2 separate regions of the Homo sapiens genome follow, and region 2 is linked to region 1. The links come from fine-mapping of genetic effects on gene expression. A gene starts in region 1. The other region holds a variant in brackets. All regions are shown on one strand. Distances are from middle to middle. Region 1 holds the start of GTF2IRD1 (GTF2I repeat domain containing 1). Region 2 overlaps GTF2IRD1 (GTF2I repeat domain containing 1).

Evidence for each region. PIP is the estimated chance that this variant, and not a neighbour inherited with it, causes the effect.
Region 2: its variant is the best candidate, but not a certain one, in a credible set for the expression of GTF2IRD1 in lung (TOPMed, PIP 0.56).

The regions. Positions count from the first base shown.
Region 1 is chr7:74,451,545-74,455,770 of GRCh38, forward strand. It overlaps GTF2IRD1 (GTF2I repeat domain containing 1), which reads left to right and starts at 2,362. Exons shown (of 27, transcript NM_005685.4): 1 at 2,362-2,632. RefSeq lists an enhancer at 658-1,177 and silencers at 2,063-2,412, 2,915-2,984.
Region 2 is chr7:74,489,412-74,493,922 of GRCh38, forward strand. The region is part of intron 1 of GTF2IRD1 (GTF2I repeat domain containing 1); the gene reads left to right. Among named protein-coding and RNA genes, the nearest start is that of GTF2IRD1, 38 kb to the left of the region's middle. The variant C/T (reference allele first, on the strand shown) is at 2,119.

The sequences.
Region 1 (4,226 bases):
TCACCAAGTTCCTGGTGTGTGTCCAGAAGAGACCCCAGTGTAATTGTCTGACGGGTGTTCCTGCCGCTGCACAGGAAGAATTCACTGAGACCATGGTATTACAGCGAGAAATAGTTTTATGTTTCTTAATTTTTAAAATTTTTTAGACAGTCTTACTCTGTCGCCCAGGCTGGAGTGCAGTGGTGCGATCTTGGCTCACTGCAACCTCCGCCTCCCAGGTTCAAGCGATTCTTATGCCTCAGCCTCCTAAGCAGCTGGGATCACAGGTGCCTGCCACCACGCCCGGCTAATTTTTGTGTTTTTAGTAGAGACAGGGTTTCACCATGTTGGCCAGGCTGATCTTGAATGCCTGACCTCAAGTGATCCACCTGCCTCGGCCTCCCAAAGTGTTAGGATTACAGGCATGAGCCACCGTGCCTGGCCTAATTTTTGAAACACAGTCTCACTCTGTCACCCAGGCTGGAGTGCAGTGGCTGAATCTTGGCTCACTGCAGCCTCCACCTCCTGGGTTCCAGTGATTCTCATGCGTCAGCCTTCTGAGTAGCTGGGATTACAGGCATGCACCACCACACCCGGCTAATTTTTGTATTTTTAGTGACCAGGTTTCGCTGTGTTGGCCATGCTGGTCTTGAACTCCTGACCTCAAGCAATCCACCCACCTTCGCCTCCCAAAGTGCTGGGATTACAGGCATGAGCCACTGAGCCCAGCCAAAAGCGTCTTATTAATGCAGAGCTAGCCAAGCAGTAGGACTGGAGTTATTACTCAAATAAATCTCCCCAAGAACTCAGAGGCTAGGGTTTTTATGGATAATTTGGTGGGCAAGGGCCCAGGGAATGGGTACTGCTGATTGGTTGGAGATGAAATCACAGGGGTGTGGCAAACGGTCCTTATGCACTGAGTCGGTCTCTGAGTGGGGGCCACAGGATGGGCTGAGTCATGAGTCACACAGGTCCAGGTGAGTCAGTCGGTTGCCCGAATGCGAAAGTCTGAAAAACATCTCCAAAGACCAATCTCAGTTTCCACAATAGAGATGCTATCTATAGGAGGAAGTGGGGAACTCACAAATCTTGTGATCTCTCGCCACATGACTCCTGAGCAGTCAGATTATAAAAACGATGCGTAGGTTTTAGCAGCGTCCAGGCCCCTCCCATAATCCTAATCTCACGGCCTTTCGTTAGTTTTACAAAGGTGGTTTTGGTCTCTTGTATAAAAAGCAGGTTAGGTTTAAGGAGTAACTATTATCATCCTTGTTTCAAAGTTGAACTATAAACTAAATTCCTCCCCCGGTTAGCTTGGCCTATGCCCCGGAATGAGTGAAGACAGCCAGCGCGTGAGGCTGGAAGCAAGATGGAGTCAGCCACGCTAAACTTCTGTCACTGTCCTAATCTTTGCAAAGGCAGTTTGGCCAGGAGGCTGTGGGGAGACCTTGTGGGTTTTGCCAGGACCTGGGAGATTCTCGATCTATGTTTGGCTGTCCTTCTAAGCCAGAAGCTCCCTGGGGTTGGGGCCTGCCTGGGGTGAGTCCCTCCCTCCCTGCCATGCCCAGTCTAGCCAAGGTCTAGTTCAGGGATCAGGGCACCACGTGGGGGAAGGACTGTGTTCCTTGTGCTGAATTAGGATTTATGGCTTTGGGGCCGGATGGGAGGCGTGCGCACTGATTCAGTAGGAGCGCTGCTGTGGTGTGTGTGTGGTTGGTGGGAGCGGGGCGGGCGGGGGGCGGGGGGGCTGGTTGGGGGGACAGGGGTAAAAGCCTATCAGAGGGAGGTCCCATCAGACAAGATGGGACCAAGAGTCCAGTTGGCTCTGCTGCGACTTTCGGCCTGTCACTGCCTTCCTGCACATCTCAGGGGTGGGAGGGGGACAAAGGCTGTAAGAGTAAGAGGTACCTGGCCCAAGCCTTAGGACTAGAACCCGGGCCAGGCGGGAGTGACCAGCCGGGACACTCAGGGCCTCCGCGCGTTCCAGCTGGGTGACCTTGACCCTCCAACTTCAGCCCCCTGCGCCCGGCTGCTCTCCCAGTGGTGGTGGGGAGCGGTGGGGGTAGACGGGGGCGCGCCCAGGCTTTTCTAATCCGGCGCTGGTGGGGGAGAACCGAGGGCGCCACCGCCCCTCCCCGCAGGTCCGGGGCCGAGGGGTGCGGCGCGCTCTCCCCACCGCGGTGCCCAGGTCCCCGGGACGCAGGGGCGCTGGGTAGCAAGGGGGGTGCGCAGGGGCGCGGGGCGCGGGGCGGGCTAATCCCGTATGTAAATGGCAGCCAATGGAGGGTGGTGTTGCGCGGGGCTGGGATTAGGGCCGGGGCGAATGGCTGGCAATCTTACTGGGATTACAGAACAAAGAGCCTCCCCGCGCTCCCGCTCTCCGCTCCTCTCCCCGCGCCGCCCCGCCCTCCGCCGCAGCCCGCGCCGGGGGTGGGGGCCGCCGAGCGCCAGCCCCCCGGCCGGCCGATTCCCCCCCCGCGCCCCCTCCCCGCGCCTCCCTCCCCGCCCTCGCCGCGCCGCCGTCCTCGCCTCCCTCTGCCTCTCCTTCCCCCATTCTCCCGGATTAATTAAGGAGGCAGCGGCAGGAGGCTGAGTCCTGGCCGCGGGCCGGGGCCGGGGCGCCGCTGGCAGGAGCGCTTGGGGATCCTCCAAGGTAGGAGAAACTTTTGCGGGGGGCGGGCACCGAGGCCCTTCTCCCCTTCTCCCCCACCCCCGCCCCCGATCCCCTCCGCCTCCGGGGGGGGGGGTCCCCGCCCCTCCCCCTCTCAAGGTGTTACAGGAGCTGGGGCCGGCTTTTGGGTGCCCGGGGAGGCACGTGACTGGGATTATAATTCGGGCCCGGGGGGAGGGGAGGGACGGCCGCCCCCCACCTGCCCGGGAGGGGCCGGGAGCTGGGAGCTGTCACCCCCTCCCTCCTTGCCACCGGCTCTTCTGGAGGTGGGGGGCGTCCCGGGCCGGCGCCCGCAGGCTGCTGCAGTTGGCGAATGAGGTCAGTCGCGCTGCCCGCGGTGGCGGGCGCCGGGGTGGGAGCAGAGGGGGCTGGGAAGGCCGCGGTCCCCGCCTTTCCCCCCTCCACCTTCTCCCGGTCTGGGCCAGCCCCTGGCCCGCGCCCCCAACTCCCAGGCGGAGTCCAGTCCAGCCAGGATTGCCCCAGCAGGGTGGTTCCTGTAGTGGACCCCCCGCCCCGGCCCCGGGGAGGGGGCTGGCCTGTGTGGTGGTGGCCGCTGAATCCCGGGTGGAGGGGACTCAGAAGGTGGCAGTGGGGGGACCACAAAGGGTTCAGAGGAGTAAGTTGGGGATACTCGGTCTGTGGGTGGTCTCTGAGTTCCTGCAGATGGGTGGAGAGGACAGAGGAGGGGCCACAGGGTGCTGAACACCCACCCGCCCCATCCTAAGTACCCTGGGCATGATGGGCTTGACACCTCTCCTGGGCTCCTCACCCCTGGCCAGCAGCCAGGGAGTGAGACCCTGCCTCGCCTGGCGTGGGCCCAGGGAAGGGGGCCGCTGTGCCGCTGAGAGTTCGTTCCACCCTCCTGGCAGTGCTGGAGGGGGCTGGAGCTCTGGCGTCTGGCCTAGTGACCCTACCTCCCAGGACCAAGGTCCTGCGGTGGGAGTCTCCTGTGTCCCCATCCCAGCTGAAGCGAGGGTGCTGGGACATAGGGGTCTCGCTGCAGGGCCTGTGAGGGGAGCACTGACTCTTGGATGGAGAATGTGCCAAGGGGTACCCCGGGATGGCCCTGGGCCTGGCGGGTGGGAGTGGAGGGCAGGCCCCCGCAGTTTTTGGAGAAGTGGGCATTTGCTGGGGTTTCTCTTAGAAGAGGAGAGGGGTGTCTAGAAGCCACCCTGGCGCGCCGCTGCCATGGTCGGCCTCTGTGTGTCTGGCTGCCCCGTGGCCAGGACTGTTGACTCCTTGGCACTGGCCCGGGGCCTTGGGACTTGGAAGGTGCCCCAAGCAGCTCATTTATTTCAGCAGTGTCATTCCAGAGGGGAAGGGCACCAGCATCGATTATTTATTCTAAGCAGGAGGAGGTGGCTGGAGGCTGGTGGCTGCTGGCAGGGAGGGGCTAGGTATAAGGTAGTTAGGTGGCCGTCATGAACCGCCCTATTTGGGGCCCAGGAGGGTGTGAGATAGACTCTGACCTCTTCTGAGCAGGCATCTGCGGACCAAGGGACAGGCTTGGCCCCAAGGTGACAGGGTATCGGAACCCCCATCCTGCCTCTGGGGTGTGGGAGGCTCAAGTCCACAC
Region 2 (4,511 bases), 38 kb after region 1:
AGCTCACTGCAACCTCCGCCTCCTGGGTTCAAGCGATTCTCCTGCCTCAGCCTCCCAAGTAGCTGGGATTACAGGCATGTACCACCACACCTGGCTAATTTTTGTATTTTTAGTAGAGACGGGGTTTCGCCATGTTGGCCAGCCTGGTCTCAAACTCCTGACCTCAGGTGATCTGCCCACCTTGGCCTCCCAAAGTGCTGAGATGACAGGTGTGAGCCACCACTCCTGGCCTGGTTTCAGTTCCTTTCTAAGGGCAAGGACAGCTCTCCTAGAAGTCCCTCATGTCTCAGTGGCCAGAATTGGGTTCTGGCCTCTCCTTACACCTGTCCCAGCTAGGGGAAAAGGAGTGCCTTGCTCTGAGCCTTGGAGAATCACCAAAGTTCCTCCCAGGGACTGGGAGGGCCCAGCTGCCCCAAGCACTGGTTGTTGGGACAACCCAGCAAAGTTTGTCCCATCTTTAGATACCAGGACACAACGGGGGGATTCTGTTAGCAGGGAGTGGGGCAGAGGACTTGGAGGACAGCTTTTGGGGTCAGATCCAGGACTGGAACTCAGATTTTTTTTGTGTGTGTGTGTGACAGAGTCTAGCTCTGTCCCCTGGGTTGGACTGCAGTGCTGCAGTCATAGCTCATTGCAGCCTTGACCTCCCGTGTCAAGCTATCCTCCTGCCTCAGCACCCCGAGTAGCTGGGACAACAGGCACGCACCACCACACCTGGCTAACTTTTTTGTTTTTTTGTAGAGATGGGGTCTCACTGTGCTGCCCAGGCTGATCTTGAACTCCTGGGCTTGATCCTCCTGCCTTAGCCTCCCAAAGCACTGGGATTACAGGCGTGAGCCACTGCGCCCAGTGAGACCCCAGGTGTCTTAACCATGACCCCAGACTGCCTTCTACTGCACTGCGGCTGGGTGTAAGACCCCCTCCCGCTGCCCAGCCCAGAGCCTGGCCTGAGCAGATACGAATGGAAGGCCAGGGCTGTGACTGGCAGTGTTCTTCCCGGCTACAGTGACAGTGGTGGTGGGGGAGGGCAGGAATCCAGGACCCCCAGGCCACTCTACCCCCACTGGGGAGCCTCTGGGACTAGAGAGGGAGTATTCAGAGGGAGGCTGAGGCTGCTGGGGAGAAAGGATACCCCCCCCCCCGCCCGCCTTCCAGAAGGGGAGAAATTTCTTTTTTGTTTGTTCTCTCAAGCTTCTTTTTCAAGAAACAAGCATATGGCAGCGGATGGTGCGGGGGCCGTGTTTGGGTGGGGTGTGTGCCTGCCTTTGCCTTTTACGTGGTTGGGTGTATTTTTTTTTTTCTCCATCAGCTCCAACGCCCCAGCTGGTCCATAGGGCAGTGAGACTTGAATCACAGAGACGCTTCTCTGGTGTCCAGAAAAATCCGGCTCTTTCTAGTGGCGCTTCCAAGGGGGAAGAGATTGGAGAGCTCTCCAGCAAACCCAGGCCTGAGCTTTGCAGAGGTCTGAGCTGAGGACTGAGTGTCCAAGGGGCTGAGGATGTGGACTGTCTTTGTGAGGTGGGGTACAGCCAGTGAAGGAGCCAGTGTTAATTTCCTGAAGCTGCTGTAACACGGGCCACACAGACTTCGTGCCTTAAAGCAACAGAAATTTCAGGCCGAGTGCGGTGGCTCATGCCTGTAATCCCAGCACTTTGGAAGGCTAAAGTGGGCAGATCATGAGGTCAGGAGTTCAAGACCATTCTGGCCAACATGGTGAAACCCCATCTCTACTAAAAATACAAAAATTAGATGGGCGTGGTGGCAGGCACCTGTAATCCCAGCTACTCAGGAGGCTGAGGCACGAGAATCGCCTGAACCCTGGAGGTGGAGGTTGCAGTGAGCTGAGATCCCACTGCTGCACTCCAGCCTGGGTGACAGAGTGAGGGAGAAAAAAAAATTCTTTTTTTTTTTTTTTTTTTTTTTACTTTGAGGTTCTTGGGTACAAGTGTGCAGGTTTGTGACATAGGTAAACTTGTGTCATGGGGGTTTGTTGTACAGATTCTTTTTTCACCCAGGTATTAAGCCCAGTACCCAATAGTTATTTCTTATGATCTTCTCCCTCCTCCCACCCTCCACCTTCTGAAAGGCCCCAGTGTGTGTTGCCCCCCTCTCTGTGTC[C/T]ATGTGTTCTCATTGTTCAGCTCCCACTTATAAGTGAGAACATGCAGTATTTGGTTTTCTGTTCTTGTGTTAGTTTGCTAAGGATAATGGCCTCCAGCTCCATCCATGTCCCTGCAAAGAACATGATCTTGTTCTTTTTTGTGGCTGCATAGTATTCCATGGTGTATACCTACCACATTTTCTTTACCCAGTCTATCATTGATGGGCATTTAGGTTGATTCCATGTTTTTGCTGTTGTGAATAGTGCTGCAGTAAACATACGTGTGCATGTGTCTTTATTGTAGAATGATTTCTATTCCTTTGGGTATATACCCAGTAAGGGATTGCCGGGTCCAATGGTATTTCTGTCTTTAGGTTTTTGAGGAATCACCACACTGTCTTCCACAATGGCTGAACTAATTTACAACAGTGTATAAGTGTTCCTTTTTCTCCACAACCTCACCAACATCTGTTATTTTCTTGTTCGTTTGTTTTTGTTTTTGTTTTTGTTTTGAGACGGAGTCTTACTCTGTTGTCCAGACTGGAATGCAGTGGTGCAATCTCAGCTCACTGCAACCTCTACTTCCTGGGTTCAAGCAATTCTCCTGCCTCAGCCTCCCGAGTAGCTGGGATTACAGGCACACACTACCATTCCCGGCTAATTTTTTTTTTTTTTTTTTGAGACAGAGTCTCACTCTGTCGCCCAGGCTGGAGTTCAGTGGCGTGATCTCGGCTCACCGCAAGCTCTGCCTCCCGGGTTCACGCCATTCTCCTCCCTCAGCCTCCCGAGTAGCTGGGACTACAGGTGCCTGCCACCACGCCTGGCTAATTTTTTGTATTTTTAGTGGAAACTGAGTTTCACCATGTTAGCCAGGATGGTCTTGATCTCCTGACCTCATGATCTGCCCACCTTGGCCTCCAAAAGTGCTGGGATTACTGGTGTGAGCCACCACGCCTGGCCCAGCATCTGTCATTTTTTGACTTTAATAATAGCCATTCTGACTGGTGTGAGATGATATCTCATTGTGGTTGTGATTTGCATTTCACTCATGATCAATGATGTTGATTGAGTCTTTTTTCATAAGATTGTTGGCTGCATGTACATCTCCTTTTGAAAAGTGTCTGTTCATGTCCTTTGCCCATGTTTTTATGAGAACAAGAGAAATTTCTATTCTCACAGTTCTGGAGGCCAAAGGTCCAAAATCATTACCACTGGGCCAAAATCAAGGTGCCGACAGTGCCATGCTCCCTCCAGAGGCTCTCGGGGGGAATCTGTTCCTGGCCTCTTCTAGCTCCTGGGGGCTGCCAGCACTCCTGGGCTTGTGGCCGCATCACTCCAGTCTTCAAGGCCAGCATCTTCCAATCTCTCTCTACTTCGTCTTCACTTGGACTTCTCTTCTATATGGATGTCCAGTCTTCCTCTACCCTATTTTTAAAAAATGTTTGTAGAGCTGGGGTCTTGCTGTGTTGCTCAGGCTAGTCTCAAACTCTTAGCCTCAAGTGGTCCTCCTGACTTGAAGTGATCCTGCTGCCTTGGCCTCCCAAAGCACTGAGATTACAGGAATGAGCCACTGTGCCTGGCATGACCTCTTCTTCTTCTTCTTTTTTTTTTTTTTTTGAGATAGGGGTCTCACTGTCTTGCTCAGGCTGGAGGGCAGTGACGTGATCTCAGCTCACAGCATCCTTGACCTCCTGGGCTCAGGGGATCCTCCCATCTCAGCCTCCCGAGTAACTGGGACTATAGGCATGCTCCACCACACCCAGCTAATTTTTTTTTATTTTTTGTAGAGATGGGGTCTCACTATGTTTCCCAGGCTGGTCTCAAACTCCTGGGCTCAAGCAATCCTCCTGCCTTGGCCCCCAAAGTGCTGGGCTTACAGGTATGAGCTACCGCGCCCGGCCATGACCTCTTCTTATAAGGATGCATGTGATGGCATTTAGAGCCTACCCGGCTAAGCCAGAATAATCCCCTACCTCAAGATCCTTAATCACATCTGCAAAGTGATTTTGCCATATAAGGTAACACAGGCTCTGGGGATTAGGACATGGCTGTCTTTTGGAGGTCATTTTTTTGAGCCTATCTCGGGTCTCTAAGGGCAAACTCCAGCAGCCATTCTAGTAGACAGGTTCTCCTGTGATAGATGCCGGCCAGGTAAAGGAGACAAATGGAAGATCCCAGCTGACCCACCTCGGCTCTGTCCCCTCTGAGGGGACCTTATTCTCATTTATGTGGACTCCCTAAGCCATATATCTAGGCTGGAGTGCAGTGGTGTGATCTTGGCTCACTGCAGCCTTGACCTCCTGGGCTCAGGGGATCCTCCCATCTCAGCCTCCCAAGCAGCTGGGACTACAGGCATGCACCACCACACCCAGCTGATTTTTTTATTTTTTGTTGAGATGGGGTCTTGCCATAT